Homo sapiens: one gene and its partners. The protein of the gene in region 4 interacts with the protein of the main gene of each other region in a pairwise test. Each region holds a gene or a part of one and is shown on either strand. Other genes may lie near its edges. The genes, in order: SSTR3, PELI2, PLEKHA1 and MPDZ.

What was found.
Region 1: the proteins of MPDZ (region 4) and SSTR3 interact in binary tests that used the Homo sapiens proteins (3 or more experiments, as listed by UniProt).
Region 2: the proteins of MPDZ (region 4) and PELI2 interact in a two-hybrid assay, tested with the Homo sapiens proteins (one study listed by BioGRID).
Region 3: the proteins of MPDZ (region 4) and PLEKHA1 interact in binary tests that used the Homo sapiens proteins (3 or more experiments, as listed by UniProt).

What each region holds. Positions count from the first base shown.
Region 1 is NC_000022.11:37,209,457-37,216,857, reverse strand, and holds the start of SSTR3 (somatostatin receptor type 3), read left to right. Parts: upstream 1-4,380; 5' UTR 4,381-5,033; intron 5,034-6,168; exon of another isoform or gene 6,169-6,313; intron 6,314-7,401.
Region 2 is NC_000014.9:56,121,409-56,128,431, forward strand, and holds part of PELI2 (E3 ubiquitin-protein ligase pellino homolog 2), read left to right. Parts: intron 1-7,023. UniProt on the Homo sapiens protein: E3 ubiquitin ligase catalyzing the covalent attachment of ubiquitin moieties onto substrate proteins. Involved in the TLR and IL-1 signaling pathways via interaction with the complex containing IRAK kinases and TRAF6.
Region 3 is NC_000010.11:122,369,861-122,377,711, forward strand, and holds the start of PLEKHA1 (pleckstrin homology domain-containing family A member 1), read left to right. Parts: upstream 1-4,847; 5' UTR 4,848-4,946; exon of another isoform or gene 4,947-5,101; intron 5,102-5,480; exon of another isoform or gene 5,481-5,699; intron 5,700-5,717; exon of another isoform or gene 5,718-6,241; intron 6,242-7,851. UniProt on the Homo sapiens protein: Binds specifically to phosphatidylinositol 3,4-diphosphate (PtdIns3,4P2), but not to other phosphoinositides. May recruit other proteins to the plasma membrane.
Region 4 is NC_000009.12:13,269,687-13,276,709, reverse strand, and holds part of MPDZ (multiple PDZ domain protein), read left to right. Parts: exon of another isoform or gene 1-136; intron 137-7,023. UniProt on the Homo sapiens protein: Member of the NMDAR signaling complex that may play a role in control of AMPAR potentiation and synaptic plasticity in excitatory synapses. Promotes clustering of HT2RC at the cell surface.

The DNA of each region.
Region 1 (7,401 bases), on a different chromosome or scaffold from region 4:
CTGCACTCCAGCTTGGGTGACAGAGCAAGACCCTGTCTCAAAAACAAAACAAAACAAAACAAAAAAACCCCAAGGCCCCCATAAAATGAGAGAGTAAAACATCAAAAAGGAAGACATGGAATCTAAGGAACTGGATTCATACAGGAAAAAGCTGAAGGGAATCCCCAAACAACAATGGAGAGAGAATCTCGGGATGTCAGCTGCGCACAGGCCCAAGGGGCAGCTGGCCCAGATAAGAGGAGCTCGTCAGTCTCCAGGACGAAATCGTCCCTGAGGCTGGACTCTGGAAACTCCACTGTGTGGTTTTTACGAAGCTATAGGAACGTGTGGAAATGCTTAGTCCAAGAAATCGAAGATATTTTTAAAAACCAAAAAACGAAGCAATTATGAACTCCTGGCTGAGCAGGAAATAATATTTACATTGCATTAATCATGGGAACACTGGATATGCATTTAACCGAAACTCATATTGAGAAGATGGGGAGAAGGGGTGAGAGTGCGTAAGAAATGTAAACTTCTCCTGTACTGTAAGAGGAGTCAGTAGATAATGGGTAAAATTGAGGGATTAAGACATAAAAAAATCAATATGATATTTAGCGAGAAAGAGCTTAACTGAGGGAGCAATTGCCGAGCGGGTGGGATTACCTGTGGGATGGGGGGGTGGGAGGGATGGGGGAGGACTGCTGTTTTTTGCTGTTACAAACCTTTTCAGCGCTACAGTAGTCCACTTAGCGCAGTTTCAGTTACCTGTGGTCAACCACAGTCTAAAAATATTAATAGATTTTGAAAGAAAAAGAGACAGAGAGGTCACCATCATATAACTTCTGTTATGATATATTGTTATATTGTTTTATTGTATATTGTATTATTAATTATTGCTGTTCGTCTCTTAACTGTGCCTAATTTATAAGTTAAACATTATCTTTCTCCACCATCGTGGTGTGTGGTTGACTCCGTTTCTCGCCACAGCTTCTCACAAGACTTTCAGGATCAAGTGATTCCTGCACAAGAAACAAAAGCAAAATTGTCCCATTCCCCAGTGGATCTGTATGAAAACTGGTAATAACATCAGGTACAGCTCCAAAAGGAGATATTGGAAAGAACCAAGCTGGGTCTATAAGGAATTGAGCATGAGATGCTACACATATTCATGTTGTATCAAGGTTGTGATCATATTACCATAGCAAGCTGAAAATGTCACCACTATCTGGACAGCTGGACATGTTTGATTGGGAAGGTACTTTTTCTCTTTGTTCATATGCTCTGCACTAGTAGGCTGGGTTCAGTAATACATAGGTGAGATCTTTTATTTAAAAAAAAGTTATCAGCCTGTAATCCCTGCTACTCGGGAGGCTGAGGCAGGAGAATCGCTTGAACCTGGGAGGTGGAGGTTGCAGTGAGCCAAGATCGCACCACTGCATTCCAGTCCGGGCAACAGCGCGAGACTCCGTCTCAAAAAAAAGAAAAAAATTATCAGGCTGGGCGAGGTGGCTCATGCCTATAATCCCAGTACTTTGAGAAGCTGAGGTGGGAGGATTGCTTGAGGCCTGGAGTTTGAGGCTAGCTTGGCCAACATAGGGAGACCCTGTTTCTTTTAAAAAAAAAATTACCATGGGTATGTAAAACATCATACAGGAAAAAATAATAGCATATATATACAGGTTCACTATAATCCACGGATTCAGGCATCCACTCAGGGTATTGGGATGTATGCACCGAGGCATAAGGGGCATAAAGCGGGGACTATTCTACTGGTTTCTAAATTTACTTGCAAACAGTACTTTGATAAAATAAAAGCAAATTAAAAAATCATTGCATTACAGATAAGGAATCCTGAAGGAGGGAGTGTTGGAGAAGGGGAGGGCTCTGGAGAAGGCTGCCAGAGCAGGGGATGCCTAACCAGGCTGAAGGTGAAGAGGGGGACCCGGAGTGGCCTGCTAGGGACTCGCGGCACCGGTGAGTTTCAGATGGAGGCCCTGGTGCTTTAGAACGAGAAGAGGGCCGAGTGGCGGAAGCGCAGGCTGAGGCTCGTTACATGGGGTCCCTAGGCCGCGGTCGGGACTGTGGATTTTATTTGACGAGGAACAGGTGGCCATAGGAGGTTCTCAAGGAGGCAGCTGGGATGACTTATGTTTGTAATGGACTCACTCTCTCTGCTGAGTAGGGGGCGAGGGTGGAAGCAGGGGAGTACAAGGTGATGGTGGGGTGGAGGAGGAAAAACCCTTCTTTACTGTCTTAGGGTCTCTGGCTGGGCTGAAGAATTAAACTGACATAAGGCAGATCAGCAGGAGAAAAACATACAGATTTCATTTACATGTACAAGGGAGCCCCCCCGCCTCCCGCCCAAATGACCAAGACCCAAAGAAGTGACTAGGCATAAAGGCTTTTGTACCAGGTTGAACATAGAATGGCAATTGTGTAACTAGGAAGATAAGGATTAAAAGATCTGTTCATACAGATTTCTTTTGGCCTCGACTCTCCTTATCTGGTAATGTCTTTCCTCCTCCTGGCATAGGGAGGGCGTCTTTCACAAGGCGTTTTAGCTCCTGCTTTCAGGAAGAAAAGGGGAGGTCAGAGCCCCCTTTCTGCACCTGCTGTTTCTGAAGTGCCTTTAGTGCAGAGAAATCAATATGCCAGAGTGGTGTATTCTGGGGTGGCGTGTCCTGAACCCCTTCAGTGGCCTGGCTCAGACGGGAGCCTGTGGATGGAGAGCAGTGGACGGGTTCCAGGCTGGAGCAGTAAGGCTCGGTGCTGGGGAGGTGTGTGGCAGGGGGCACACTGATGAGCATTCACTCCTTTAACCTTCGCAAGAACCCCCAGGCCAGGCAGTCAGGTGTGTACAATCTACTGAAGGAGAAAACCGAAGTTTAAGTTCAGTGCACGGCAGGGGTAGAGCTGGGGCTCAAACTCCCCTGTCCAGTCTTCAGCCCCTATACCCCAACCTGCAGGAATAAGTGAATGAATACATGAGGCTGGGTACGCCTGGGGCACAGAGGAGCGAGTGAAATCAGCAGAGGAGGAGGCCCGCGCAGGCGGCAGGAATCAAGGATGCAGTGCCAGGTGGGCTGCGGCGAGAGAGCTTTATTCTGAGGGCAGTGAGAAGCCGTGGGTAGGGGTGGGTGGTCAGTGCCATGGAAAACCCACCCTTGACCCTGAGGACACGCTCCCAGGAGCCCACCCACACCTCATGAACTTGTACGGACAAGGACAATGGGAGGCTGAGACCTGGAGCAAGGGCCTTGTCCCGGGCACAAGGCAAAGGGACGGGCAGCGTTAAGAGACCAGGCCGGCTCCGGCTGGAAGTGGGTGTGTCCTACTGTGTGCTGCCGCATGCATGGTGGCACCTCTGGATGCATTCAACTTCCAGTTCTCTGCAGTGCCAGGTACCTAGTGACAAAGGAGGTCCAGCCCTGGTCCCAGGGAATGGCCCAGTTTGGAAAGCAGCCTAGGTACAGCCTGGCACATAGTAGGTGCTCAGCCAAGACGTGTGTCCTTTTCCCTTCCGTCTCTGACTGTTCCTTTCCTTATCACTCCTGTGCTGAGGCAGGAATCAGCACAGGCAGGGGCACGGCATCCCAAGACATCTGGGCCTGTGCTCAGGACTGTACGGCAGAGTCTCTTAGACCAAAGATCAGTAAATATGGCCCACGGGGCAAATCCCACCCACTGCCTGTTTTTGTACAGCCTAGGAGCTGAGAATGGTTTTTACGGATGAACATTTGCAATCGGTTTGATGAAACACTAACTCTAAACTCCAATTAAGCAAAAGGTGATGTCTGTAAAAAGAACTCTATTCTTCTCATGAGTGGACCTACATTACAAAATACTGGCCTCAATTATTATTATTCTATTTTGAGTTTTGTCAGTTACAAAATAGTAAAAATCTGTTTTCTCACTGCACAATGATTTTGCCCTCAAAGCCTAAAATATTGGTTCTCTGTTCTGTCCTTCCACTCCTCACCCTGCCTGGGGCTCTCCAGATGTAACCAATCCCAGGACTAATGACCCCCACCCGGCCTCCCCAGTGGTCCGTGCTGCGGCCGGTGTGCCCGACTGCAGGGCTGGACTGTGGACTCCCGGGCTGGCCAGCCCCACACCCAGCCTTGCCTTGGGACACAGCTGCTGCCCCGGGGGACCTGTGCCGCAGTGGCCTCACGAGCTGCTCTGGCTACTGGCTGGCAGCCTCGGCTCCCCTGAGCACTGAGCACATTCTTCTCTCCAACTCCCTGCAGGAGCCAAGGCCAGCGGGCGTGGGTGGCTGAAATCTCCCCGGTAACAGGGTCTGCGCCCCTCCTGCTCCCTCTCCGGGCCTCCTCCCTTAACCTGCACCCCGCCCCCACCCCCCACACCTGCTCTCCGGCCCTCAGCCCCTCCCTGCTTACTCCCTCCTTCACGGGCTCCATGTCACCATCTGTGGCACAGTCCCTCTCTGTCACTCTCCCTGCCACCCCCTCATTCTCCTTCCTCCCTCCTGCCTCTCTCTGCATCTCTCCCTCTCACCCGTGTCTCCTCTCCTCTCTTTCCTTCTCGTCTTCTCCCTGTCACGCATCTCTCATCACTCCCCCTCATTCTGCCTTTCCTCCTACTCACGGTCTCCTCTCCCTCTCCCTCTCTCTCTCTCCCCCTCCCTCTTTCTCTCTCTCTCTCTTTCTCCACCTCCTCCCGACCCCCTTTCCCCTCTATTTCTATTGGCTTCTGTGTCCCTTGCTCCCCTCTTCTCTTCCTCACCCTGGGAAGCTTCTCCCCCCTATCCTTGCCCCTGCCCCCCCAGGATGTGTCCTGGAGATGGGGGGTGACGTACCAGGCTCTGGTTGGGAAGTCAGGGCCGGAGACCAGATGGGAGAGGCTCTGTGGACAGCCGTGGCCGAGGGCCTGGGAGGGAACCTGAGCCCGCAAGCGGTCTAGAAGTGGGTGCCTTGTGGGGACCCTAGTTAGGAGTGCCCTGGGGGCACCTGGGGACTGGGCAGGGAGAGGGGACAGCAGAATGATAACCAGCCTGGCGGCAAGGAGGGAAGCCCTCACCCCATGGGCAGGTAAGGAGGCTGGGGCCCGGATGATGTCCCGAAGGGTGGGGTCCTGGAAGCCCATCCTCTGCCCAGGATGAACTTGGGAGGCTGGGGCTGGGGAGGCAGAGGGTGGGGACTCCCAGGGAGGCAGGAGGGAGGCCTTCCTGTGACCTCCCGGTCGGCTGCAGGGGCAGGGGCGTTAGTCTCAGAATCTCGTGCCATGATTCTAGGATCTCGGAATCACAGAATCGCAGGCTGTCAGGGCTGGAGGGAGCCAGATGTATCATGTCGTTGGCTTCCCCAGCTCACGTGGCAGCTCTCCTGAGCTCCCCCTCCATACCCGGCACTGTGCTTGGCACGCCTCCGTTTAATCTCTGCAAACAACCCTGGGAGGTGGGTCCGCTTGTCTTCCATATGACGAAACTGAGGTGCAGCGGGGAGAAGTGACTTGCCCGAGGTCACACAGCAATTTGGCATCATCGCTGTGCAGCAGAGCCCAAGCCCCCAGCGCTGGGCCTGTAGGGTGTGCTCCTGGGATCAGGCCCCAGGCCTGGGGTGCCAGTGAGTCAGTCGGCACTGGCAAGCATAAGCCAGGTGTCTTTGGGGGGAAGGCCGAAGCATGTAGAGGACAAGCAGAGAGCCAGGGGCCATCGCCCTGCACTATTCAGGACTGTCATGGCCTTTGATCCTTCTCAGCCTGAGGCCTTCAGAGGAGCCAGTGTGGCCAGGAGGTACTGATGGTTTAGAAGTAGATAGAACTGGGTTCGAATTCTGGCTTCCCACTCTCCAGCTGGGTGACCCTTTGCAGCTTACTCAACCTCTCTGAGCCTCAACTTCTTCCTCTCTAAAAACTCTCCCTCTTGGGCTTCTTGAGGATCTCATGATGTGAGTCTGAGGCTTCCATCCGGGGACAATGTCCCACCTTGGAGCTCTCCTTGTTGAACGGCTTGGCTGTTCACATTTATGGCTGTTCTGGGTGATGTCCTAGGTTCTGGGGTTAAGAAATAAATCATTCAGGGCCCCTGCCTTCAAGAGCCAGTGTTCTAGCGGGTGGGAGATGGGCAAATGGAGAATGATTGGGGTGCCTGGCCTCCCTGAACTGTTAGGGCTGTGCGGCTCAGGACAGCCACTCACCCTCTCTGTGCTGTCTCCTCCTGAACAGTCCTCCAAGGAGTCCGCCCCCAGCTTTCAGGCAAGCTTGTGCCAAAGATAAACCAGACAGGGAGGAAAAGTCCCTCCTTCTCAAGGATGAACTAGATCATGCACAGGATTCCAGCTCTAAAGAAAAGACGGCACCTCAATTGCAGGTCTGGCTTACGTGCGTGGAAAGCTGTAATTTCCCTGCTTCTGCTGCCTGGGCCCCTCAAACTTTGACAGGGAAGACCGGCTGAGATAAGGGTGGAGACAGGGTTTTCCAGGAGGGGGCCAGGGGTTCTGGGAGGGGCGACTGCATGCCCTGGTACAAAGGAGGGTCTGGCTAGGCACGCCGTGTTCCTGCCAGGACCATGTGTGTGTCAGCGCATGCGCTTGTGGGTGCACAGACATGTGCTGGGCAGGCGTGGGGGTGGGGCAACCTCAGAGCTTACCCCCAGCGGGCTACCCCAGGGGCATATGTCCCTGAAGCCTGGAAATTAGGCCTGCCCAGCTCCTTGCTTCTCTCAGGAGCCTGGTGCTCCCCTCCCTCATCTAGCCCTGGCTTGTGATTGGCTGACCAGCAGGGATGCTATAAAGAGGATCTGTGCACAGCACAGGGCAGCAAGGTGGATGGTGACGCGGGTCCCCTACCAGGGAGGCAGGACTCTAAGGTTCCAGGTTGCACAATTCCAGGTCTAAGAAGGACTCATTCTAGCATTCTGGAATTCTAACATTCTCTGATTCAAGGATACTGAGTCTAAAATCCTATGGCTGTAAGATTCTCTGCCTGTTCTAAGAATTCAAAATTCTATTTTTAGATCTCTAAGGTCCATTAGGCTTTGAGTCCATGATCCTCATAGCTCAAAGCCCTGGGGGCAACTGGGAAAGCGGATGCCAGCTGGGCACTCAGGTGGGTGCCTTCCCAGGCCTGGCTTCAGTTTGCCAGCCTGTGGAATGGGCGTAGAGGTGGTCACTACAGATCTTTCCAGATTTGCCCCTTCCTAGCTGTGACCAGAACATGTGACCTCACGTTTGCTCCCCATCTGTGCAGTGGGGATGACAGTAGTGCCTCCCTCGTAGGACATCATAGGATACTGCAGCTCACCAGCTTAGCCTGGCACCTGGCACAGTCAGGGCTCAGTGATGAGCAGCTGGCAGCACTGTTAGGATCCTCTAGCCCACTGTCCAGGTGCCCCTCCCTTAGTGCTGCTGTCCCAGGCTCAGGAGACCTGATGAAGGGTTGGGGAGAAGGATGGGTTGA
Region 2 (7,023 bases), on a different chromosome or scaffold from region 4:
TCCACATAGCTAGGATTTTAGTGAGCTCATCACTTTCTGGGCTGATTAGTGGAATTTAATTATTTCATGATTCCAGCCAGTTAATGTATCATAGCCACAACTCTTTGTTGTGTCCACTACTTAACTGAAGGTAGAGAAAAATGACTGGTCTAACCAGCAGGTCTTTTTGCTATAATTTTAAACTTACGTTTTAAGGTTAGGGAAGTGGCTCAGGATTTGAGAGGCAGTTTGGTATAGTGGGAAGAACATGCATTTACAGGTGGGTGACCTGAATAAGCCCTTCTCTCTTGCTGACTGGCTCTGTGACTTTGGCTTAATTCCTCCTCCTCCTCTCTGTTTCTTTATCAATTTGCAAAATATGATTGGATTAGGTAGGCTTCAAGAGCCCTTCCTGGTCTGTGCTCAGTAATTCTGTTCATTGGCGCAAATGTAGAAACTATTTAGTTACATATTCTAAGTTCCCTGACAGTTGTTTTAATAGCAGAAAAGATCAATGCTGTGGTTGTTTTTTATGAAGATGTGCGTAAAAACAGAATGTTTAAAAAAGTTGTAATGATATACATCTGTTTGACTCATTGGTGTTAGGTTACCCATGGGAGCATTTAAATTGTGTAAAACTTTATGTTCCAAGTTTAAGAAAGACAGTGATGTTTTGAAATTTAGCTAAATAGACTGAAATAACCAGCATAAAGAGGAGATGATCTCATGATAAAAATTTAGAACTGAATAGCATTAGGGGAAATTCCTAATGTAGATGATGGGTTGATGGGTGCAGCAAACCACTATGGCACGTATGTACCTATGTAACAAACCTGCACATTCTGCACATGTATTCCAGCCTTAAAGTATAATAAAAAAAAATTAGGACTGGAAGGGGGCCTAATGGTCATGGTATATGTTTAGCCCTTATATTTTATTCTTGAGGACACAGGCTCCCAGAACAAGAGAGGTTCAAGTTCATAGTTGATCTGGGCTGAGCTGGGTGGCTGTACTCCCCTACTCTACCCTTTCCTCACTTTAAGACAGATTCCAGCAGCGCTGTCAGTTCCTCAAAGCATCCTTTCTGGATTCAATTTGAAGCATGTGGCTCTCTTGCTGACTAATGGCCCATGGTGGTTTTTGGAAAAATATTGCTTACTCTCTTAGTTCCTCTCACCTCACAGTTGAATGGATAATGCATTTTGCAAGACTTTTTTTTTTTCTTTTGATGCTTCACAAAATGTATTTTTATTGGCTCTCTCAACCAAGGGTTCTTAACCTAGGGTCCACAGATGGAGTTCGGGACATTCTTGAACTTAGATGGGGGAAAAACATGTCTTGATTTTCATGATATTCAAACTGCAGTTTAGCATTTTCATTCACTTATGAGTGTAGGCAACAAAAAGACTTGCTGCTAGATTTTGTTATTTAATGCATTATTACAGAAGTGCACATGTGTATAGCAATTTAAGACTTTTGATATTTAAGTATAAGTGATTCCAATTGTAATCCTTTGTATTTTATTTTGTATGTTTAAAAACATTAGTCTGAGAAGGGCTCATTACATGTCATCAAACTGCCAAAGGGATTCTTGGCACAAAAAGAGGGTAAGAACCTCTACAAATGAAAATTTATAAATATGACTAAATATGACTGAAAAATGAAGTATTTTAGTAGAAATTGATAAGCTCTACAAAAGGAGGTAGATACCTGCCTCATTTCCTTTGGATGATTCAGTGTTTTGTTAGGTAAGACAAAGAGGGGTATAGTAGCTTGTAGAGTTTATGGTCTTTTTTTTTTTTTTAAAAGCAGGTCCCACTTTCTGTATGCTTTTTGTTGTTGCTGTAACCTCAGCACTTTGCCTTGACTACTCCACCCTTTGGTGGCAATAAGAAACCTTCAAATATACCCTAACACTTTTCCTTTTCTCATCCTCCACTCTAATTTGGGCCCAAAGACATCAAACATTAGTATCTTTTATAGACTAAAAGGTCTTTGAACTTTAAAAAAATTTATAAAACAAAATCTTTACTGTAGCTCAGCATGTGGGGTGATCTGAAGAGCTCAGATCTGTTTGTGTGGATGGAGTGTCTAATTCTGTGGGCTATTAAGGGTTACGGTGTTACTGGCTTTGAGTTGCTATATTTTCCTTTACTAACTTTAGCCTTGTTTGGAATATGTGGCTGTCTGTGTTGCTGTGTGGTTTCTGGTCTGGCTTTCTCAGATTTATTTATTTCTCTCTTTAACACACCAAGACTGAAAGCTTCATTAGGTCTTTTCATTTCTGGTTGTGTTTCATCCTGTGATCAATATTTGGGGATGCTGTGTATAAATGAAAGTAAAACAGGCTTGATTCAGGTTCAGTAATTTTACCAAACATTTTATCGAAAAGATAAAATACTTATGCACAAAGGACCAAAACAAAACAAAATAGCCGTTGCTATATTTGAGGAAGACCAATATTGTCACATTGGAGCACTGGTTTTATATCTGCTGTGCAGGGCTTGCAGTGTGGCCTTCCTGAAAGTAGGTATATGGGGTTGTAGGTTGGCTTTTGAATGGAGACAACAGCAACTTGGTAGACCTCATTGGTATGGGAGAAAAATAACTGTGAAAAGGAATTTATAATGTCTTTTGATTTAATTAAACGTTTCTCCTGGGGTGTGCAGAAATCTATTTTATAAAAAGAAAAGTAAAGGTTAGAATAATTCAGTTATTAGTTCTTACTGAGCTTATTGTCACCTTCATCTTCTGGAAAATAAAATAATAAGAGCAGAAAGTGCTTCATATTTCTTAGCTTTGTCTAAATCACCTGTTCTCAACCACTGTCTCAAGTACCTCATATGTGATGATCAGTCTTGAGGGTATGTGGCCAGTAATTTATGACAAGTAATAAAGTGTGGATCTTTCAAATGATTCAGATATGTCATGTTAATAATGTCATTTTTCACCCTTTTGCATTCTGATGTGTTTTCTCAAGTGGGAGAGAAAGGGGTGGAGTTACATCAGGCAAGCCAGGAATGTATGCATTCAGCAAATATTTATTGGCTGTCTACTCTTCCAGGCATGAGGAATACAGCTAGGACAAGGCAGACACATTCCTTTTCCTGGTGAACTGCTCTCTTATTTTTGTCCCAGCCTCTTTGTGAATAACCGTTACTGATACATGGTTCATTTATTTATTCCCCAAATATTTGAGCATCTGCCACTTGTCAGATGCTGTGGATTGCACTAAGGGATACGCAGATGAACAAGACAGTCATGGTCCCTGCTGCTGCAGCACTGACAGCCTAGCTGGAAGACCTGAAGGCTGGGATGGTGGATGTGTTAGCAGGGTCCCCTAGCCATGTGCCAGGATGAGATGGGGATGACCACGATGGAGATAAGAGGGAAGGAGTGCTTTCCGAAGAAGGTTTGGAGTATTCTGCAACCTAGAGATGAAAACGTGCAGCTACTTTGAGGAACAGAGAAACACTCTTTATGGCTAGGAAAGAATGATTGAATGAAACATTGTGAGGGATGATGATGGGGGGATATCATGAAGGGCTTATAAGATATTGGAAGGGGTTTGGACTTTACCCTAAGAGCACAGGAGACTGTCTCAGGGTTTTGCTAGTATGAGATGGGAGTGAAGAAAGCCCTCTGCTCTTTGCAGAGTGGAGTTGGAAGGCACAGTGGAGTTGGAAGGAGAAACTGAGGCTGCAGCCCAACAAGGCAGAGAGAGAATGGAGTGTGAGCTAGAGGGCAGCTGTCTTGCTTCTAGTTCCTGGTTCGGGTACCTCCTGAGACCTAGTTTCGTGTGATTGACCATTCATTCAGTGACTCAAGATACTGACTGAGGACCAGCACTGCTCCCAGCCCTGGGCTACACCAGCAAACAAGACAGACAGCTGCCCTTCCTGCCTGCTTGGAGCTTACCTTTTTTTGAGAGAGGTGAGCAAGCAAAGGAGTAGATAAAAAATGGAACTTCAGAGACTGCTGGGAGGAAACTAAAGCAGGATAAGGAGGAAGAGAGTTATTGGGTGGGCAGGGGGGGGGTGAATTGGCAGGGTGAAATGCTAGGGATAAGGTAGTGGGGGATCCTTTTGGACAAAATAATCAGGAAAAGCTTTTCCGAGAAAATAGTCCTGTGTCCTTTGAGAGTCCCCACTTCTTTCGGTTTTTACTTACTTTTTTTTCTGTTTAAGCCACCTTGAGTGGGTTCTGCTCTTTCAATCAGAAGATTCCAAGTATCCCGTTAAGAGGCAACGTATATAAGCAATTTACTGAAGGGAAAAATAGAAGTGTAAACAAATACAAGGGCAGATAGTTAAGTATCCCTGGACAAAAACGTGGTTCTGCCCTCTGTGCTGCTTGCCATGTGCCCAGAGTGGCCATTGAATTCCACCAGAGCGTATTGCCCCTTGAGGGTAGGAACCTTGACTTCCCCCCTCCTTGGAATGCTGGGCTTCCCTTTCTGGTGCATGTTAGGTACTCACTGAGCCTCTTGGAGAAATGGATTTCTGTGGCACACCCTAGTTTGCCACCCCACATGGAGATGTGGCCAGGGCTTAGTGAATGTTTCTGGACTTGGAAGGAGCACTCTGCTTCTGTAGCACAACTGCAGTTTTGTAAACAATCCTACCAACCTTTAGGGCCCAAGTCAAAGTTTCCCTGAGAAACTAAACATGTGCTTTACTGACATCAGATATTCCAGTTTCAACTTTTGTTTGTTTTTCTTTTTGTCAGTCACCTAGCAGTCATGTTGTCACCTGCAGAAAGTCCTGCCTTGAAGGGAAGCAGGCCATCTGTTCTGATTCCACCAGCTGCTCGGAGCTGCATTGCAGTGCGCCACAGTGGCGTTGAAAGGCTGTGGTCATTAATGCCTATTAATGATGGCTGGAAATACTGTGGCATACAAGCCTCTTGGATGACAGACCTAATAAATATGCATCAGGGGGCATTTTCAGCAGCAGGTTTAAGGCTATTGCGAGTCATTCTCGATTGAGGTTTTCTTTCTAGCCATCCGCATAATGCTTCTCACTCTCAAACACTTCACTCTGCTTATCCCTGCTTTTCTGCTCATGCAGAATCTGTTTTTAGGATAAGAAATCATTGTTTCAAGCTTTGTACTTCCATTCTTATTAGTACTGGTTTAACAGAATTTAACCAGAGCGAGCAGTTGTGTGTTTGGCTTCTAGGCTATTGGTATAAAACGGCTGATCGTGATTACCAAGTGCCTCGGAGGACCTCGGTGGCCCCCCTCCTTTCCCATCTTGTGCTTCCTGCTCCATGATTATAGAACACTAATTATAATCAGAACTGGTGATGGGTGAGCAATTAGGCTTTTCTGGACTGATGATTGATTGATGGATTGATTGATTGATTGCGTTGGGGAAAGGCCCTTCCTGCGGAAGGATTGTAGACACAAAGGAGTGTGCTTTCACACCAGATCCCAGAAAATTATGCTGACTAGATCCTTGATGTAGTACATAAGATTACATTATGGTTTGGGTACTTTCATCACATGCTGTGGATAGAATTCAAAATGCAACCTGACAAGACTGATAGGAAATAAATTCATTAAGTTTTTATTGAGTTGTTTTTTGTCTCCTCGGGTTGTTGATCATTCTAGTGAGCACAATTTCAGCCTTTTTGATGAGTTATTCCAAACATTAAGTACTGTACGGTTTGAAAATCTTAGCTAACAAAAGCATTTTTGGAGTGGCTTTATAATTTATAAGTCATCTGCAAGTCTTTTTGCATTTGTTAATCTCCAATATTATCTGAAATTTGTTGAGAGCGTGGCAGTTGAAGAATAGCCTAGCTTACTGAGAACCATGCTTCTGGCAGACTGGAACATAAGCAGCTTTCACCCAGGAGAGCTAATGCATGACACAGATTTTCAAGCTTTTAAAGGTCACCTGACATGAAATAACAGAACTAACAGAGATTCGAGTAGGTGGGGTAATCTATACAAGCATCCTGCAGGTACAGGATGGTGGAAGGACCAGAAGAATGTTTTAACACTGCATTTGGGTGGTTAAAGGACAGGATGAAGAGCTCATTTATATTGGTTGTACCTGTCTGTGACTGTCGGCAGTAAGAAGGTAGTACAGTTCCTGAAATACTTTATGTCTCCTCCACACCATGGAGAACAGTTCTGTGTTGGTGAGAAGCAAGCCAAGGCAGAAGATGGCTCTTGTGTGGTGCAGTTTACAAAAGAGAGACAAAATTTGATAGCAGCCACTGCTGCCAGCCACCTGCACAGCACTCAGGGTTGGGAGAGCTACAGGCCTAGAATCCACTGGTTACTGCCTCCAGATTGAACACTTTGCCATAGAAAGAAAATGAAAACATTCCTCTAGTAGCTAAAGTGAACGTAACTTCTGAAATTTCCCCAGATTCTGTTTGGGGAATTTTAGCATTTTTCATTTCTAATGAGAGGGACTAAAAGATGTGAAATCAAAACTTTTGCATTCAAAATTGATCAACTGAGTGTAAAAGAAATTTAAATAATTGAACTTCCAGATGATGTTAAGTCTGTTGCTTTTATAATTTTGTTGTTTTTAAAGCTTAAAATTACACTAAGAATTTTGAGATGCATGTGTGTATGTATATATTTTATTGCATGTGTGTTCTGCATGGGTATATTAAAAATGGGATTCATTGATCCTGCACATGGACCCCTGAACTTTAAGATGAAGAAAAAAAAATGGGATTGCCTGTACATACTAGGAATTAAGCACTATCTAAACATACACACTAAACACTGATCATTCAGTTTGTGTTAGGTGATGCTGTTGTTGCTGTTTTACGAGGCTGATTTCACTTCAGAGGACTAGGGGTGGTGGAGCCTACATAAGGAAATGCCCCCCAGGGGTACACAGTCTAAGGGCAAGACAGATGACTTAGCAACAAATCATTAATTAGGGTGTAGCGGGATGGTGGGCGAGAGCTCTGGGCATACTATATGCCAGGTTCCGTTAGGTGGTTTACATTATCCTTTCCAGGAGTTCAAATTTATTATCTGGGCAATGAGGCTCCAGCTTAATGACTTGTCCA
Region 3 (7,851 bases), on a different chromosome or scaffold from region 4:
CTTCAGCCTCCTGAGTAGCTGGGATTACAGGTGCCCGCCACCACACCCAGCTAATTTTTATATTTTTAGTAGAGATGGGGTTTCATCATATTGGCCAGGCTGGTCTTGAACTCCTGACCTTGTGATCCGCCTGCATCTCGCTCTCAAAGTGCTGGAATTACAGGCGTGAGCCACTGTGCCCTGTCTGGTAAGGGGAAGGGGTCTGAGGGTACAATTCCCCCAGGCCAAGGAGCTTGTGAAGCCCAAGATGGACTTGTTCCCAGATCCTCTCTCCCAGCTTTGTTTGCAAGGAGTCTTCACCTTCTAGAATGCTCCCTACTTCAGTGCTGCAATTAGCAACCCAAGTGTGGCCCTGGATGATCATCTTGATTCAGAAAATCTTGTTTTTCAAGTTTTCACACCACATTGGAGCAAGAGTCCGTATGTTTGGATGACAGCAAGCATCCTGTGCTCTGCAATTTTAGGGTTTACCACCATCCCAGGCCTGCCACATGTGGTCAGGGTAATTAATGTATGACCTAACTAGGGTGTAGATGCAGCTGGAACCCACCAGACCCCCAGAGATCATAGGGTTGCTGGGGACCTTTAGAACTCCAGTGGCTTTCAGCAACTTTAGATCCTGTCCAACCCAGATGTTCAGTGTTGGGCTCCCTTCCTTGTCTGATAATCCTAAGGCAGGAAAGACCTAGTTCTGCTCTCTACAAGTCTTGGAGGCAAGCATCTCCCCGGATGCCCAGTTTTTTGTTTTTTGTTTTTTGTTTTTTTTCCTGTGTGGGCCTGGAATTTGGGCTGGTTGCTGACTTTTTCAGAAATCCTATTCTTCCACCTTGGTAAGCATAAAATGTGGACAATCTTTCGTGGCACCTTCCTGAAGGAGGATTGTTCTGCCCCAGCCCTGGGATGCAAGAATTAGCTCCAGAAGGAGACTCCAGTCACCTGATTGGTAATCTGGGAAGGTCACTTAATCTGTGCCTGCTTGGGGTGATTACTGAGAATCATGCTTCCCCTCACTTGGTCATTGCCAGTTGTGAGGCAGGGTCAGAAAGCCAGCTCCGACTCTTCACCCACAGAAGCAACTCCACTGACTCGCTGCCTGGAGTTCTTGTGCCATTTTTACACTAAAAAATAGGGAAAAGCCGTTTTTAACTCTCTGCTACCCAGTTTCTGGAGGGGACACAAAAAGAACAAAGCCGGGTTCAGAGAGTGTTCAGTTCATGTTTAATTCTTGTTCTATCTTGGTTCTGATTTCTGGTTAGAACAGAGGTTTGCTTCTGGAGGTACTCCTTCTGCTTGGCTTCTGATGCTGGCTCTGTCCATAAAGGGGACTGTGGCATTCATCATTCAACACATACTTCTGTTGTAGGCACTAAGGATACAAGCAGGAACAAAACATAAAATCCCTGGCCACGTGGAGGTTACAGTTTAGAGGGATATGCAGAAAAAAAAATATATATGCACATATATAATATGTACAAAAGTGACCATTGCTAAGGGGAAAAAGATAATGCAGGAAATGCTGCAGACATCAAATATTAGAGAGGTGACTAGCATTCAGGAGCTTTCTGCGTGCCTCTGTACGCTGCTTTTTGTGTTGTCAGAGGGGCTGACGTCTGTCTGGAAGCCCCAGAGCCCAGCACTAAGCATATGGAAGGGGCCCAAGAGCTATTTTTGAATGAAACATCAACGTACTTCACACGTGCAAAGCATGATGATAATGATGACAGTGATACTTTAAAGGTAAACTGCAGGCTGGGGCAGTGGCTCACACCTGTAATCCCAGAACTTTGGGAGGCTGAGGAGGGGGGTAGATCACTTGAGGTCAGGAGTTCGAGATCAGCCTGACCAACATGGAGAAACCCTGACTCTACTAAAAATACAAAAATTAGCCTGTCATGGTGGCAGGCACCTGTAATCCCAGCTACTTGGGAGGCTGAGGCAGGAGAATCACTTGAATTCAGAGGCAGCGGTTGCAGTGAGCTGGGATTGTGCCACCACACTCCAGCCTGGGCGACAGAGCGAGACTCTGTCCCTTCCGGCAGAAAAAAAAAAAAAAGTAAACAGCTAAACTATAGATCCTTGAATTCAGACTCCTCCTTTTTCTTCAGATGAAAAGTAGCCATGGAATATTCCAGCATTCCTCAGTGCCTTCAGTGAGTCCTGAGTGTTCTTGGTTTGCTCCCAGACTGTAATTTCCCTGTACTATTTTTTTTTTAAATAGCACTGAAAGCACTGTTATGTAATAAACCTCTGCATCCAAAAAAAAAGAGGCTGGAAGAAAAGCAGAGAGCTTTTTTTTTTTGTCTCTGTATTTATTGGCTGATCGGGAGCTATGAAGTTCTGGTTATACTGCAACCTCAAAGCAGTCCTGGGATTATCTTGTTGTGTGTCCTTGGGCAAACTGAGTTACTTTTCTGGCTTTCTTTACTGTATGTAAATATGGCTCTCAATGATAAACAGTTTTGGGGACTTGTTATGCAAAAAGAACAAAGGAGCAATTTTTTTTTCTTGAGTCCCGTTCTGTCCCCCAGGCTGGAGTAGAGTGGCACGATCTCAGCTCACTGCAACCTCCATCACGTGGGTTCAGTTGATTCTCCTGCCTCAGCCTCCCGAGTAGCTGGGACTACAGGTGCCCACCACCATGCCTGGCTAAGTAGAGGGGGTTTCACCATGTTGGCCAGGCTGGTCTCAAACTCCTGACCTCAAGTGATCCGCCCACCTTGGCCTCCCAAAGTGCTGGGATTACAAGCAGGAGCCATCACATTGGCCAAAGGAACAATTTCAAACCACTCATCAATGATGTCAAACAACATTTAGGAGAGAGATCCGGCGGGTCCAGCCTGGAGAGGGTGAGAGGCTCTTGGCCTAAGTGTTCTATTCTCAGGACCAGTATTTTCAGATCAAATAAAAGATGTGAATTTGACTTTGAATTTCAAATAAACAAATTTCCCATCTGGAATCTTCTAGGATTCTAGCACTGACAAGCTAGAGACTCCTTCCAGACCTTCTAGCCAGGGAAGGCAAACTCAAATGCCTACAGGGATAAGACAGGTGACACCTAGATTTTTATTTTTAAATGTTAACCACACATTCAGTTAAATCAACAAAAACCCACTGTGTGGACCAAAGGAAACAATCTGCTCTGGCTACTTTATAAACTATAGTGAGGCCAAACCCTTTCAACCATTATACAGATGAGGACCCCAAAAGGGACAGATGTCAGCAAGGCTGCATAGCTAAGGTTTCTCAAAAGATAACCAAAATATCACGTTGGATGAAAGGCAATTGAAAATGCTAAGTCTCAAAGAGGCAGTCAGAGAGCCGTTCTATGCAGTTTGCAAGATGTTTTCACCTCCATCAATTTATCAGACTCTGAGAACATTCTGCAAGGCAGGCAGGGTGGATGACACTCATTTACAGTCGAGGTCACTGAGGGTCAGAAGGGCAAAGTGTCACTCTCTGCATAAAGTCACATAGGTAAGTCTACACAGGAAAATCTAGGGCTGTTCTTCACTACACCTCTGATTCAGATAACAGGTAGGCTTCCTCTAAGATTTTAATAAAGACAAACTCAAAATCCTGTATGATGCCCCATGAAGAGAAACAAGTCAGGAGGCCAGGCTGAGCCCCCAGACTTCTAACCCAGTTCGCAAATAAAGAAAGTGGCAAAGTAGATAGATTCCAGCCTGTCACCAGGGTTGTGTCTTCTGTCCTAGCAGCTGTACAGCTTGTCTTACCACTGGACATTTGTTTCATGTACATTTTCACATAGGAAGGATATTCTAAAAGATGTTGATAAAGATTTTTTAAAGGGTTTGAAGGGGATAGGATGTGATCTAAGGTTGTGCAAGGAGAGGAAAGGAAGAAGCACACAAAAAGAACAAATATTTATTAAGAGCCTAGAGTGGCATGCGCTGTGAAAGGCGTGGCATGTAATTCTTTCCCAGTTCTTTGCCTGTCTGAATATTTCTCATTCTTCAGGTTTCAGCTCAGATATCACATCCTCAGAGAACTTGCCTTGCCACTCTCTCTGAAGAGCCTCCCCCCGTCCCCGCCACCGCTACTGTCTCTTGAACTTTCTCAGTCTGGCCATTCTATTAAAATCTGGAACGATTTTGCTAGTTTGCGGACGAGTTTCCCCCAAGCTGCAGGCTCCATAAGGGCAGTGACAGTGTCTCTTTCTCAGATGAATGCCGGGTTGCCTATCGCGTACTTGGCACACAGTTAAGTGCTCGAGAAATTGCTAAACACTCAACGAATATTTACCAGAATACATATTTATGCTCCACCGTTGCTGAAAGAATTTCGACTAACCCTTCTTTAAGTCTCTCTTACCCTCCTGTACTATTAACACCATTGTAAGTAGGCAGTGGAGCTACATTTGCAGGGAGAGAGAAGAGCGAAAAATTGGCGCGCAGAGCTGTAAAGCGTTTTTCTCCAGGTCACACCGCAGCCTGTAAATTTGTGACACTTGGACCGATTATGGGACAGCTTGCAAACAAATTATCTGCAAACTAACGAAGCCTATTTTTAAAGATCCCTGTTCCTCGCAGCTCTAGGCGATGACATCAGAGAACCCGGAGTTCTACCTCCGAGCCAAGCCCAGTGGTGGTCAAAAACTACGAATACCAGGAAGCACCGCGGCGCGGCGGCCCAGAGCTCCGCGCGCAGGCCTCCCCGGCGCGCCGAGGCCGCCGCCGCTGGAACCAGGAAGACGCCAGAAACTCGGCCCGCCACGCCGCAGGGACCCGCGCGGGGCCTGCCGGGACTCGTAGTCTCTGCGGGCTGGGAGCGCCCGCTCCGGAATCTCAGCCGCCGTCTGAGGGCTGAGGCAGCGTGGGGACGCGTGCGCAGTGCGCGGGCTGGCCGTCGCGGACGCCGCTCCGGGCAGCCGAGCCTCTGTGGGAGCCGGGGCCGCGGCGGCGCGGGTGCTCCGGGCCGAGGCCGCGGTAAAGTTTAGCTTGAAGAACGCGGCCGCGCTGGAGCAGGGGTGGTGGACGGGGCCAGGCGCGAGGTGGCGGCGGCTGCGGGGCTGCCGGGCTGCTGGAGCGCGGTTCCCGCTGTGGCGAGCGGGGAGGCGTCCGCAGAGGGGCGGTGGGTGCTGGTGAGTGCGGAGCCGGCGCCCCCTCTGCGCACGTCCGCGCCACGCGCCACAGCACCTGGAGGCCGCCGGGCCGGCTCACCTGCCCTGGCTTGGGGCAGCGGGAGGGGGCGGCGTCTTCTTCCCGTGGGTCCCCGATTGTTTTCCCGACGTCAGCCCTCAGCGGCGCCCGGCGGGGGAGGGCGGGAGGCCCGCGGCGGTCGCGGGGCCGACGAGCTCCTCGGCGTCTCCGCCCCCCGAGAAATCCCGCTCGGGGCGCGGTGCGCGCAGCTGCCCGGGGATTCCCGGTGGCGCCGGTCGGAGCGCCTCCCTCCAGGGCTGTGCCCGCGGGGCGCGCGTCCCCGGGCATCCTTTCCTGGTGTTTAATGCATTTTGGCTTCAGGACTTGCCGAGGCCGAAGCCGGCTCCGCCCTGGGCCCTGAAGTCGGGCGGTGTCCGCGATTTACCTCCGCACCTTCGGGGCAGGTGGCCAGAGGCAGCGTTGAAAGCGACTTGCCCAAGGTCACGCAGGTGGCACCGGGGAGGCGACCAGACCCAGGTCTTTCGACGCCGAGGCCAGCTGCCAACCGCAGAGCTTTGGGGCCGTCTTGAGTGGTTTGTGGTTTGTTTCAGATGCTTTCTATTGACCTCCTGGAAAGAGGGGAAAGTGTGTCATAATGAAAGCGGTCCTGTTGCTTATAGTGTTTACCGCCTTTGGTAGAATTCTGGTGAGGCTGTGCCCCCGCGCAGAGCATCTACCGTGGTCTGGGCGTATAAATAATGAAACTCCTTTGCTCTCTGGGGGCAGTACAAGAAGAGGTTCAAGGAACAAATAAATATCCAGGCAGTTTCTGCGTTTTCCTCGTCTGTTTGTTTCACCTTCCAATTCTGCAGTACTGGTTTTCTTATTTTACAATTGATCGTTGTTTTAATAAGATTTTCTTTGTTTTAATGAAGTCATTGCCCCTTGTGAGTTAGTTTTCTAAATAGAAAATCTTATTTCCTGTGTGTTTAATGACTGGAACAAATAGTGCACTATGAGGTTTACACCATTGTCTTTCATCTTAGAACTCCTGATCAATCTGCTTTATTTTCCCAAGTACTCAGCTTGCATACTTTCTATGTTAATTTGATGCCACTGAAACCATTTACAGCAAAGTTTGGGTAAGAGTTATGTGATTGTTTTGTGAAACTGTGTTTTTCTTCACAATCTGAAGAACTTGAAGACCCGTTATATTAAAATAATAAGATTTATTCTGATCAAAATACCTGTTTACTTTTCATGCTCTTAATTTTTCCTGTTGACACACTTGTGGCAAAAGAAATATTTCCCCTAGTGGAGTTAAAGTATTTTTTATCTTGGCCAATTTTCCCAAGGAAAATTGCATTTTAGAGTACTGATACATTTAAAAAAGAGTATTTAAGTTTGACAGAATTTGAATTAATAAAGTAGTTAATTTATTTTATACTGCCGTAAACCTTACACTGTATCTACTGACAGTTTTCTCTTGTAGCGTATACCTGTATCAAGATATATGGCTGTGAATTTAGTGACATTAAGAAGATATATATATATATATATATATATATATATATAATATAAATATATGTGTATACACACCGCGCGGGCGCGCGCAGAGCTTCCAATCTTTATCTTGTTAATTAGTATTTTCATTGTCGCTTTGGGAGGGGGGAAAGTAGCAGGTTTGTATCTTTTTTTCTCCCCAGTTTTAGCAGTGTAACAAAATAGGAAAGATGGTGTGTAAAATTGAGTTTGTCATAGACTAGGAGAGACAGTGAAACAGGATAAGTATACAATTGTGAGGAAACTGCCATGAGTTCATAAGCCGGAAGGACCTTTTTAGAAGTGTTTAAGGATGTTAAGAATAGCATTGGATTCTTTTCTTTAAAAGTCATTCAAGTATCGTTTGCTAACATATAGGATATGACAATATTGACCACTCCTAGGAAGATACTTGGGAAAGGTGGAAACATTTTACATTTTTATGGGGACTTCCCCCCACAAAAAACATTTAATGGAGATTTAAACAAAGTGGCTTTTTGACTTAAGCCTGGAAGTTCTTTATTATTATTAGTCATGCTGCAAATCCCGAAGTTATTTTAATTGTGTGATAATTTGTAACCCAGAATGAAATCTAATAAATAGTTTATTAATATAATTTAAGTCATACTTTGACATTGACATATTGCTTGATGTCAAGTCATTATTGTTTAAATAACTTATTTGAGAATGGGGAAGATAGTTTTCTGAATATAGTGTAGTAATTATTTGTGACAATAGTAACATTGCTTTTATTAGAAAATTTTGGGTTGATATAACTAACTGCCTTAAAGTATTTCCTATTTGATTCCAACTGTGAGCTGAGGTAATATGCAAATAATTACTTTTCTCATGCTGGAGCAGTTTACTTTTGTTAATATTAAAATTTAAATTTCAAGATTAAAAAATCTTGTTTTAGATCTGCAATGATACAATAAAATGACTTCAATAGGAGTTAAATATTAAGATTTGGTTTTAGGTTTTTTGACCATTTGTGAGTACACATCCAGCATTTAAGAATTTATTGACATGGTGTCTGAAAGGAATGCTTTCAGAAAGGGCAGAAAACTTGGTAGCTTTAGATGATTGTTTATAATGCTTAATTATTTTTAGAAACATAAAAATATGGGATGTTTTTATGTAAACATAAAGCATCCTGTTATTTGTTATAGCACTAGAACTCTCTTACACTTACTGAGCAATATTAAACCAT
Region 4 (7,023 bases):
TGAAATATTTTGAGGCAAAGTTGGACTGGAATGTCCCCAAATATGGTAGAGCAAATAGCACATCTGCCAGAGAAAGATCCTACACTTTAAAGAGAAGAAGCAGACAACTTCCTGGTGAATTTAGGACTGCTTGATGGTGCGTATGAGTGATGATATATGTCCAAAACAGTTGTATGTACTTTTGAAAATAGATATTTGGCCTAAAGTAGGATTTCATTTGATATTGTTACGTACATTATCAACCCCATATTTATAACAATAAAGGTTTCATTTTTTCTTGTAAATTAGTGTCATGCATAGGAGAGCATTTATATAAGTACAGTTCGGAAATGATATTTAGCATGGTAAAATTGATATACTGTGATTAAATAATTTTAGTGGGATTCCATGTGGGAGAATAAGACTAAGGAGGTAAATAACTACTTCTCGATAAAGGAAACCAGTGGTGAGGAATCCATTGCCTTCCTGTGATACGTTTCCAGAGAAGATCCGAGGTATTCATGTAGTAGGTAGTAATAGATGGATTAGGAAGAATGTTGTATTGGGTTAGGCATTGGGGAGAGTACAGAATAAACATGATTCTGCTCCAGAAGTGTAGGGTCTTAGTTGGAGGAATCTAATGGGAGAAATAACAGAAAGGTTTTACATGTTAAAAATGTTACAGGGATTCTAGGAAAGTAGTGAAGTATAGGGATTAGTTGCTCTTATCATTGAGGTTAGTAAATAAGACACAGAAAGGCTTTGGTCTTGAGATGAGAGGGTGGAAATGAAAGTTTTTTTGATATGAAGTAGAGCTTAAGTCAGTGGTTTTCCCTTGAAAATGGACATGTATAGAAGAGGCTGGGATGTGAGTGGGCAGTGGGTACTGGAGAGCATATTCAATTTGTATATTTCTGGAGTGGAATAGAGGATTTGTGCCCAGGGGAAAAGGTTGGATAGGGAAGAGCAATTAATGGAGAGCAATGAAGTATAGGCTGACTTTTATCTCTTGAAGTTTCCACTTTCCAATAACCCAAGTCACATTTCCTTCTGAGAGTTAACCTCTTCAGTGCAATCTGGGCTTTTTCTAACATGCACCCTAAAACGTTTGTAGCCATTACCTATTACCCAGTTCCAAAGCCACTTCCACATTTTTGGTGTTTGTTACAGCAGCACCCCATTTCCTGGTACCAAAATCTGTATTAGTTTGATAGGGCTGCCTTGACAAAATAACACAGAGTGGGTGGCTGAAACCACAGGAATTTATTTCCTCACAGTTCTGGAGGCTGGAAGTCTAAAATCAAAGTGTTGGTGGGATTGGTTTCTACCAAGCCTCGCTCTTTGGCTTGTAGATGGCTGAGTTCTCCCTGTTTCTTCACATGCCCTCCCTCTGTGTATGTCTATAGCCTAATTTTTTATAAGGGAACCAGTCATATTGTGTTAGAGCCCACCCCTAGTGACCTCATTTAACCTTTATCTCCAAATACAGTTATATTGTGAGGTACAGGGATTAGGATTTCCTGTGAATTTTTAGGAGACACAGTTTAGCTCATAACAAGGTTCTCAAAGAGACTTAGTGTGTAAACTAGTGAGACTCTGAGGCAGTGAGCTCGTATTGGAGGCTAGTGCATAGTCTGAGCATTACTGGGGTAATTTGATGTTTGGCAAGAAAGGGAAGCTGCTATTTGAGGACAAAGGTATTTTATCTTTGGCCTGAGGCCACTTATTTTCTTTCTCTGGATGTTCATTGGGAAATTGTGCCTCTGTGGCCTTTTTGTGGACAGAGCATTAATTTTTTTTTTAAGTGTTTTATAAAAGCATTCGTTTTCTTAAAATATTTCTTTTAATGGTTCTTAAAAATAGTAAAGCGCTAAATTTGGCAAAGCTGAAACACTGTGTTGTAAATGTCTCAGTGGTTTTTGAGTCTGATTAAAACAACAGAATTTATTCTTTAAATTCCATTGATCTAAAAACTGTCTGTCTTATACGTGTTTTGTGGGGTAATGTATGGCATAATCTTTTTTCCTTCAGAAATGTTTCCCCCTTTTGGGAAAATATGATTAATAAAAGGGAATTTATGTTACATAAAATAAAAACTTTTTTTTTTTTTTGTTTTTTAGGTGTTGCAATTTTATTTGTTGAGTTAATGAAACCATTAGAGCCATTCTTCCCAATCTGGCCAGCTAAGTTAAAAATAAATAAATAAATAAAAGGAGACAAACTCTTACTTTTTTTCTTCTGGCCTGTCTGCCTGTGGTGGTTAAATTTGTTTTGTTTAGGGAATTCTTATCTTTATCCACTTTTTAGTTTTATTTGTGTCTGCAAAAGCAACATTCATTGTTATTTTCTTGTAAACCACTCTGCCTCCAGATCCAAGGTGCTATAAATAAGTGCATGAGGGGAAAGTGAAAAATGAAACATTTATTAAAAAAGAAGAAAAAAAACCCAGTAACATCAACTACCAAAAAAAAAAATTAAGAAAAAACTTAATGTTGTTGCTTATGTTTTAAAATTATTTTGATAATAAAATACATAAGGTAATTATTTATTTTAGTAAATAGCACATTTTAAAAGGTATGGAAGATACAAGTGAAAAGAAGACGGAAAGCTTGCCTGTAATTAGATCACCCAGATACCACTCCCACAAGAAAATCCCCAAGACACATATTTTGAAAATGAAGATATTTAAGTTATTTTGATATAACAAATGGATAGAGCAGCTGTTGATCAATAGATTTCACCAATTGCTGCCTTTCTAAATGAGCATCATCTGATCTGAGATTATTAAATGTTATATAATTTGAGTTGATACTAATAGCATTTGTTTGAACTGATGTCTCAGGTCTTTTGAAGAGATATGATACAGTTCACTACCACGTGGCATGTAGGATACCAGTGGAGAACGTATTTTAAAAAATTTTGATTTCTGCTTAAAATTAAGTGTTAATAGTCAATGTTTATACTGATTATATGTTGAAATAATAATTTGAAGAAAGTGGGTTAAATAAAATATATTATTAAAATTAATTTCACCTACTTCTGCTTTTTTCTTTACTGTGGCTACAGACAAAATTACATATGTGGCTCACATGATATTTCCATTGGCCAGAGCTGATCTAGAATGATGCAGATCATCCCCTCTCCAACTCTTGGTGTGTTTGATAATCTGAATTGTAACATATACAGAATGGCAATTATTTGAATAATTTCAGCACCAAATTACTCCTTTGTTAACCAATTCACTATATTGTTAATTTCACAGTAACTTTATATTGTGTACTCAGGTGGCTCCATAGGATACCTTGCTTCAGGGAACTGTCATAGAAAATGGTCATGAGAAGCTATCCTTCTGTGTTCATAAGATATCACTAACGTAACAAAACCATGATGATAGAGTCATAAAGATTAAAGATTATTCTACAATTTAAAAACTCCTTTCCGATATATTTAAGATATGTCCAGTTTCTCTTATACCTTGCTAGGCCCCTGTTTTAGTTCATTTCGGGTGCTATAACAAAATATCAAACACTGGGTCCCTTATAAACATACATTTATTTCTCATAGTTCTGGAGGCTGGGAAGTACCAGATCAAGGCACTGGCAGATTCTGTGAATGGTGAGGGCCTCATAGATGATGCCGTGTTGCTGTGTCTTCATATGGTATGGAAGGGGCAAGGCTGCTCTCTGGTACCTATTTTATAAGGGCACTAATCCCATTCATTAGAACTCTGCCCTTGTGATCTAATTGCCTCCCAAAGACCCCACCCCCTAATACCATTACTTTGGGGGTTAGGATGTCAACATATGAATTTGGGGGGAATATAAACATTCAGACCATAGCAGCCCCCTTAATAGGTCTTGCTTTGTCTAAGGCATTACTGGGTAAATTTCATAAAGCTTATGTATTTCCTCCTCGGCTTCTCACTCCCCACAAGTGTCCCAGGGTATTGCATTTTAATAAGTCAGGCCTGAATCCACTTCTGGACAGCATTCATTTTCTTTTGTTCTTCTTTTTTTTTTTTTTTTTTTTTAGTAGGAACAGAGTTTCACCATGTTAGCCTGGCTGGTCTTGAACGCCTGACCTCAGGTCAGGTGATCTCCCCGCCTCAGCCTCCAAAAGTGTTGGGATTACAGGAGTGAGCCACCACGCTCGGCCTCATTTTCTAATTTGGGATTACAGGGGCCTCATCGATATGATTCAGTGGAGTGTTGTCTGACCCTTCCAACCCTTTCCCATCACATTCACAGTTTTCTGGGCTAGGAAATGCAGTTATCCTATGCTGTTTTACAAAACTATAGCATTGGAATGGCTCTTCATTCTGATTTAATCTATTGAATATATATCGGGTTAGACTAAGTCACAAAGTATTTTTAGCTCTTTGGCTGAGGGAGGAAAATGAGAAGAAATAGCCCTGGGGCCTGGGTTATTGCTCCCTAGCTAGCTTCATTAAGATGTTCAGTGAACATCTGTTGGATGCTAAAGTCAACCTATTCAGCCCCTATCCTTTTCTCAAGGAGGTGGGAGGGAGTGTTTAACTGTTTTATTGTGGTATAAGTTATAATTGTTTAACTGTTTTATTGTGGTATAAGTCATAATTGACAATAAACTACACATATTGAGAGTGTACAATTTGTTGAATTTTGGCTGTTTTGAAGCTATCCCCCACAATCAAGATAGTGAACATATCCATCACCCCCGAAAGTTTCCTCATGCATCTTGGTAGTCCTTTCCTCTACCCACCCCTCCCATCTCCAAGTAAACTACTCATTTGCTTTATGTCACTGTAGATTAGTTTGCGTTCTCTAGAGCTTTAAATACATGGAATCATACAGTATGTTCTCTTTTGTCTGACTTCTTTCACTATGTGATTATTTTGGGATTCATCCATGTTGCCTGTATTCATAGTTCAGTACTGGTCATTGCTGAGTAGTAGTCATTGCATGGATATACCATTAAAGAGTTTTTAAGTCATTTAGAACTCTCCTGCACTTCCGTTGTCTTATGGTGCGTATTCATTCTTGGTTTTGTGAGGGAGGAAAAATTTTACTCTTTGAGGTTCTATAAGTGAGGCCTGTGAATTAAAACTAACAGAACACAGATTAACATTTAATTGATGTTTTTAATTTCATATTCATGGGGGCTACGCAGAAAAGAAGAGACCCAAAGAAGAGGATAGATTTGGGGTTTTTGCATCATTTTCATGATAAAAGTTGTTCTCACTGGTAAGGGAGAGATGATCATCTTTACAAACGGACATTTCTGTCACATTTACAAAGGGAATTTTGTGTTCTACTTTTACACAGAAAGGGCCAGGGGAGAGAGTGCTCCTGTCTTCCGTTTCCTATTTGCCTTCAGTTCAAAATAATACTGATGCCAAAGTAGCATATTTTGGAGTGGCATGTTCTGATCCCCTTTGGATTCAACTGTGTGAGTCCGACTTTTGTATTTGATGGTGTTTCTCAGTCTTCTTAAATTCATGCCCCATTTTGATAAACATAACATAGAAAATTTAAAGGCCCTTATTTAAATGTTGGAGCTACAAAATATGTAAGTCAATAGTTTAAAAAATACTACCGGTAATTGTAAAAAAGATTTAAAAATATTTAATTTTGAAAGATAGGAGATGATTAAGTAAAAAGTCAGGAGATTATTGAGGCTTTCCATAAACTTTTGTATCCTACCGTATGAAGAGTTTAAGCACAGCACAGTAGTTTCAGTATTGAACCCAATGCTTTATTTTGACTGCTTGCTAAATATTCCTCACCCACTTGCATGTTTTCTGTAATTCTTACCATGTTTGATAGATCTGTCACTCCTGTGACAAATGTATATGACAGTCATATAGTGAATTGGATAACAAAGGAGTAATTTGGTGCTGAAATTATTCAAATAATTGCCATTCTGTATATGTTACAATTCAGATCATCAAACACCCCAAGAGTTGGAGAGGGGAAGATCTGCATCATTCTAGATCAGCTCTGGCCAATGGAAATATCATGTGAGCCACATATGTAATTTTAAGTTGTCTGTAGCCACAGTGAAGAAAAAAGCAGAAGTAGGTGAAATTAATTTTAATAATATATTTTGTTTAACCCAGTTTCTTCAAATTATTCTTTCAAAATATAATCAGTGTAAACATTGTTGAGATATTTTACTTTCTTAAAAAAAAAAAAAAGCTCTCCAAAATATGCCATGTCTTTTACCCATGTCTTTTATCATATTGCCTTTAGAACTAGCCAAGGTGTAAGTGCCCAGTAGTGTGTTTCAGTGTGGCTCCTGGCTACTGTGTTGGTCAACACAGCTTTAGCTCATGCAGCTAAGCTATAAGGTCAGATGAAATCAAGAAATAAGATGTCTTCATTCTGTTATGAAAACCTGTTATGTTGGCTGGAACCACTCAGCCTTTTTTGGGTCATTTGTAATGTTTATATATTGTCTGTACCTTCTGATCACTTAATTGAAGTGACGAACAAAATAAATAAAACAACATTTAAAGCAGATGTCCTTTCTGGATTATTACGAAAGTAAAAGTTGGTTTGTGCTCTTAATATTAATGTTTAGTCTTTTGAGTGCCAGAGTAAAAAGCAGTTAATGGAGGCATTTAAATAGTAGATGAGTTAATTAAGAAGCAAATAGTCACGTTCATTGAAAGAATAAGCCCTTTTAAAATGCTTTCATGGAGAAAATATCACTTGTCAAGATAACCCCAATGAATCCTATAGAATTACATATGGTAACTAAATAGTGTAGCTTGTTACATTATCTGTGAATTAGTAATTAGGAGATCGAATTGCTGCATGCTTATTTATCTTATATGGCTAAGGTACGTGTTCAGATAGGTTCATAGTAATTTGGATTTCTTCATGCAATTTTCCCTTATCTGAACTACCTGGAATCTTGCCAGCAAGATGTAAATTGTCATTTCTTGCTGAATTTTCTTAGTGTATTCTCAGCAGTGTGGACTACCAATGACTGACAAGCTTATCAGCGGATTTAGACAGTAACATCTCTTTGCTGGCAGAGGACTACAGGGTTCTCTCTAGG